Linked DNA regions of Homo sapiens: region 2 is linked to region 1. The links come from fine-mapping of genetic effects on plasma protein levels. Region 1 holds a variant in brackets. A gene starts in the other region. All regions are shown on their reverse strands.

Region 1 (2,908 bases):
AATGAAGAGAATGTGTTGGCCTGACCCAAAGCCTATGTTTTTGCCCCTGGCTCCACCTACACCTGCCCTGGTGTTTGGAGGAGTTTCTAGGCCTCCCCCTTCAAAGATTTGCCCCACCTCCCGGTGTCATGCCTGAAACCCACCATGGTTGCTTCTGACCTTGATGTCCTGAACTTCCCTTGGCATCACAGATTCCCTGGAAGGAGCCCCAGATCAGGAATCAGGAGGGGATAAGTCCCTTTCTTTCTCTAGGCCTCAGCGTTCTCCATTTGTAAAATGGGGGAAGTCCACTGCCTGGCGTTCCTTCCAGGCAGGATGGGAGCCCGGCTGGTGGCCAGCGACACTCACTTATGCAGCAGTTGGATGCGCAGGCTCCCATGGCTGGTGGCACAGTCACTGAGGACCAGGCGGGTGGGGCCACTTGCACTGGTGTCCATGCGGATGGTGGCTTGGGCCTCAGTCGTCATGTGGAACTCCACGATGGTCTTGACCAGGGGCCTAGCGGGTGGAGGCACCTGACCATGTGAGCACCAGGCAAGCTCGGGCTGGAGCAACCCTGCCGTCCGTCTCTGTCTTCCAGCCCTCACCTCCTTCCTCAGTCTCCTTTGCTGGTTTCTCCTCATCTTCACCCAACTTCACCCCAGCATGTCCCAGGCTCAGTTTTCAGACTCCTCTTTGGTTGAAACGTCTTTCGTCTGCTGACAGCTTCCAAACTTACCCCCAGCCCCCTACTCCGATGTCTCACGGGCTTCTCAAGTTTAGCGCATGCAACACTGGACTGGCTCTTCCCCAGACCTGCTCCTCTCATGGCCTTGCCTGTCTTGGTTACTGACCACTCCATCCTGCCAGTGGTGCAGGCAGAACTCTTGGAGTCATCGTTGACTTCTCTCTCTTTCCCCCTGAATACACATGCATATTCAGTTCCCCGGGATATCCTGGTGTCCCCACCTACCTCCAAAACATATCCAGAATCCAATCAACTTCTCAGCACCTCCCTGCCCCAAACCCTGGTCTAAGCCATCATTATCTCCTCCTGAATTGTTGCAGTAGCTTTGGGATAGCCTTCCTGTCTCCACTCTTACCCCCAGAAAGTCTTTTTTCCCCACAGCAGCCAGGAGTCTTTAAAAATGTGAAAGCACAGCATATCCCTCCTCTGCTCAGAATCCTCCCTGGCTCCCGTCCTACTCAGCAAAAGCCAAGTCCTTATCTTCTCCCAAGAGGCCTTGTATGATCTGGCCTCGGCTGCCTGCTGGCCTCATCTCCTACCATGCCCCCTCTCTCTTTCCCCTGTCTTTGCCATTCTTTGAGCAAGGCAAGTACACTGCTGCCACAGGGCCTCTGCACTTGCTCTTCTCTCTGCTCGGAACTCTCTTTTCCAGACACCTGCATGGTGGGGGCGGGGGAGGGGGAACGAGCAGATGAGCCTGTCAAGCCTACTGTACTTGATGGAGGGGTCACTCACGTGTTGAATCCAGCCACCATGTCCAGGGGGATCTTGACTAGCAGCTCCTGGTCATTGGCCGAGGGCTTCACCTGCAGCTGGAGGA[T/A]GTTAGCTGTGATGACCTTCAGCCTGGATGGGGTTTAGGAGAGATCAGAATCATGCCTCCGGCTCATTATTCCCAAATCCACTCCCTCTCTATCTTTTCCATCTCCCTGGGGTGCCTAGGCAGCAGCGGGACCCTGGCCCTGCCCACCGACTCCTCTCCAGATGGTCTTGCCTCCATCCCTCCCCTCCACTCCTGCTCACAATGCTATTATGGTGCCTTCTCTTCTAGGTGGTGACTCCCAGCTCCTTGAGCTGACTCATAAGACCCTCTGTGACCTGACCCTGCTGATCCCTTACTCCTTGCCTTGAGGTTTGAGCTCTAGCCATTCTGACCGACTGTCACTTCTCCATGCCTTTGCCCAGCCTGATTCTTCTACCTGGATGCCATTTGCTTCTTGTCTCCTGGTGAGCATTGAGTCATCGGCTCCACTGTCACCTCCAGTGAGAAGCATCACCTCATCCCTTCCCTGTGCCACCCCAGACAACCTTGCTCTGGGTTGTTTTTTTTTTTTTGTTTTTTTTTTTTTGAGACAGAATCTCACTCTTGTCACCCAGGCTGGAGTGCAATGGCACCATCTCAGCTCACTGCAACTTCCACTTCCCAGGTTCAAGCGATTCTCCTGCCTCAGCCTCCTGAGTAGCTGGGATTACAGGCTTCTGCCACCATGCCTGGCTAATTTTTATATTTTTAGTAGAGATGGGGTTTTGCCATGTTGGCCAGGCTGGTCTCGAACTCCTAACCTCAGGTGATCCACCCACCTTGGCCTCCCAAAGTGCTGGGATTACAGGCTTGAGCCACCGTCCCTGGCCTTGCTCTGGGGTTGTTGTATTAGGGTTCCTGTGTCACTGTCTTATGGTTCTTGTTAACTATTCTGGGAGCTTCTTGACGGAGGGGCTTTGTTTGATCCACTCTTTGTGATCTGACACAAGTCGATGCTTGCAGACTGGTTGACTGAGCATGCAGAGCGTGTCCCGGGCAAAGGTGTGGGAAGGGGCTAGCTCCTGGTGTGGTCCTGCTCCACTCACCAGATGATGTGCTTCAGGACGGTGTTCACCAGGCTGCCCAGCACAGGGATGCCTCCGGCTGGCTTTTCCCGCATGGCACTGAGCAGCGGCAGCTGCTGCAGGATGCTGGTGGCGTTGTGGTCCTTCAGCTCCTGTGTCAGCTCTGGAGGCAGACCCCAGGGATTAGGGCCCAGGAGGAGGGGCAAGAAGGAAGGCTTGGTGGGAGCTCCAGGCTGGGGAGGGGTATCACTCGAGGCTCCCTGAGGTAAGGCGAGGGTGTAGCCATCTCTACTGTGGTGGAGGTCAGGACCAGCCTGCCAGTCCCCACTGTGTAGATGTAGCCTTGAGGACAGTAGC
Region 2 (2,908 bases), not on the chromosome of region 1:
AAAACCCAGACCAAATTTCACCTCCTCTGTGAAGTTTACCAGTTTTCTCCAGGAAAAGTTAGATCGTTCCTTTTTCTGTCCTCCCACAGTATTTCATCCATATCTCATATTACTGTCTTCACATCTGTTTCCCCTATCAGACCATGAACTCCTCAAGGGCTCCATCTTATTTATTTGTTTTCCCAGGACCTAAGCATGTCAATACATAATAGGTGTTGGGTGCATGCTGAATGAATAAAACTCCTAGAGCAGAGAAATTCAGCATCTGGAGGTTGCAGAGGGAGAGGGCAGAGATAGTCCCTCGGCAAGCCTCTCACACTGTAATGTGCCTACTATCACCTAGGGATTTTGGTAAATGCAGATTCTGACTCAGAAGGTCATAGAAGGGGCCTGAAAGTCTGCATTTCCAGTAAGCTCCAGGTGATGATGATGTTGCTGGTCTGCAGACCACACTCTGAGTACCAAGGCCTTCCAGACTTTGGTTCTCAATGTCGCTGAGCAGTCACCAAGGAGATAGGGGGAAGGCCTGAGAAGGGATGAAGTCAGTGAGATTCTCTTCCATGATTGTAAAGAGCCCTGTGGAGGGTGGTGGAGTGAGCCAATAGGAAAGCCATAATTCTTGCCCCATCACCTGCAGGAACACTCTCTTGATCTTTTGAGTGACTCCAAGATCAGGATGAGAATGAAGAGATAGCTCTTATCAAGCCCTCTAGAGCGGAAATAATCTACTTCAACTGAAAGATTTGAGGCACACAATTGCATAAAAAACAAATATAATTTAACCACCCCATTCCCCCAAAATGAAGCCTGCCTACTACCGCTGCATACAGGTCACACACCTGCTTGAGAGCCAGGTGTCCACAGGGCACTTAAGACAGCTAGGACTAGACATTGAGGGCAAACTAGATGGTCGGATCTGCTGCAGATGGCAGGCATGAGATGCTGGAAATGAGATGAAGACCTGACAGCTCCGGCTTAGGGAACCCCTTAAAACACTGCAAAATCTCCACTATAGTGGAGAGGCCAGATTTCATCACACTGTCTCAAGAACAGCACAGGGAGCACCATTCTGTCACTGTTTTCCCCCAAATTCCTGTGTGACTCTGGACACATTAAATTGCTTAAGTCTCAGTTCCTAAACAAGGTGGATAAGAGAGGTCTATGGTACCTTCCAGCCCTAAGAGTTTATGATTCTCTGACATAGTTTTCAGACACAGAAAAGCCTTTTTCCCCCACAGTGGTGGGGGGAGGCTTAATTACATTCTCTCTTATACCAAACAAGAGGAGTGTGCCATGGGGTGGCTAAAGCTGGCACCAGAAAGTGCCTGATAGAGACAAGTCTAAATCCAGTGTTAAGCTTTCTGAGAAGACGTTAGGAAATTTCATCATCAACTTTGCAGAAACCAGGAAAGATGAAAGTTGACGAGTCTTACCTGCCCAGTGCCTTGTCTTTTCACGGCAGCCAGGGAGTTGCTCTGCTTGGAGGAGCTGGTCTTTTATACCTTCCAGCAAGAATTCACTTCTGGGAAAGGCCCAGAAGGAAAGATTTTGATGTGGCTTGGAGGAGACGCTGAGGCTTAGCAGGAAAGACTGTGTGACTCCGGGCAGATACACCAGGAAACTGCAGAATGGCAGGGATTGGTTGATGCAATAGCACTGACTGTGGGTGAAGCAACTCCTCTTTCCATTTTCTAGCTTAAATGCATGATCCTGATCTAGTTCCGGAAGGCAAAAACTGCATGCCCTGAGCACATTTGTCCCTTTTAAGCTCCTAATGGGATCCGAATAGCTCTTAGAATTATGAACAATTATTAGGTTGGTGCAAAAGTATTGCAAAAACCGCAATTACTTTTGCACCTAGCTAAATGGTTCTCCTCCCCATTCATATATTCACTGCCCTTTGATCCCTCCCTTACATTCCACCCAATTTACTGTGGAATCCAGTGGATTCATCTTTTGGATTTAAAGTGATCAATAAACATTAATTTTTTTGGTCAAAATTTCAAAATACTTTTGGCCACCAAAGGGTGAGAAGAGCCCTAAGCTTTCATAGTGGGTTGCAGTCCCTGCCTCTGCCATTGTATGGCTCTAGGCAAGTCACTTCACCTTCTGGTGTCTCAAATTTTCTAGTATTGAAATCAATGGTTGGTTTTGGTGATTATTATGATTCTATGACTTCATGCCTTCTATAGGGTGACCCATTTAAAAAACTCCAGAATCTGGGAGGCCAAGGTGGGTGGATCACTTGAGGTCAGGAGTTGGAGACCAGCCCAGCCAACATGGTGAAACCCTGTCTCTACTAAAAACACAAAAATTAACCAGGCATGGAGGTGCATACCTGTAATCCCAGCTACCTGGGAGGCTGAGGTGGGAGAATCACTTGAACCTGGGAGGCAGGGGTTGCAGTGAGCCAAGATCATGCCATTGCACTCCAGCCTGGGTGACAGGACGAGACTCTGTCTCAACAAAACGAAACAAAACAAAACCACCACTATCGTATAAATTATTGACCTAAAGCTCAAGCATAATGTTACATACCTTTCCTACCTCAATGACTTTGGAAATTCAAGTTCATTAGATTCATACAAGAAGGAAAAAGGAAGATTCCGAGAAAACAAAATTTCATGAAAGTATATTTTACAGACAGACAATTTAAAACATAATAAGCCTCTTTATGAAATTATACTTTGAGTTGAAAATACTCTGGGAGCAACTGTCAGAAATTTATCAACCCCAAAACAGACTTCTTGGTTCGCCTTCAAAAAAGTGATATTTCCTTTCTCTAGATGGTGGAATATATCTAAAAACTACTTCTCTCGTGATGAATCCAGGCAAATAAGCTGGGCATCTCGGAAGAAGGCAGCTGTCCAGGAGAGGTGAATGAGACATCAGGCTCTTCTTGTTTTCT

Alleles and levels. Positions count from the first base shown, and alleles are read on the strand shown. Strength reflects both the effect of a copy and how common the allele is.
For the plasma level of the protein whose gene starts at base 1,589 in region 2, T is the high allele of the variant in region 1 and A is the other (weak association).

Evidence for each region. PIP is the chance, under the fine-mapping model, that this variant and not a neighbour inherited with it causes the effect. Protein levels are from antibody-based Olink assays in UK Biobank. Linkage for the fine-mapping came from a reference panel and not from the study's own genotypes, which makes the PIPs less certain.
Region 2: LPO starts here. The variant in region 1 is fine-mapped to the plasma level of the LPO protein (UK Biobank, PIP 0.98).

The regions. Positions count from the first base shown.
Region 1 is chr20:33,288,547-33,291,454 of GRCh38, reverse strand. BPIFB1 (BPI fold containing family B member 1) reads right to left here. Exons shown (of 16, transcript NM_033197.3): 3 at 2,573-2,714; 4 at 1,463-1,570; 5 at 349-498. Among named protein-coding and RNA genes, the nearest start is that of BPIFB1, 6.8 kb to the right of the region's middle. RefSeq lists enhancers at 1-874, 875-1,835. The variant T/A (reference allele first, on the strand shown) is at 1,548.
Region 2 is chr17:58,237,265-58,240,172 of GRCh38, reverse strand. It overlaps LPO (lactoperoxidase), which reads right to left and starts at 1,589. Exons shown (of 13, transcript NM_006151.3): 1 at 1,434-1,589.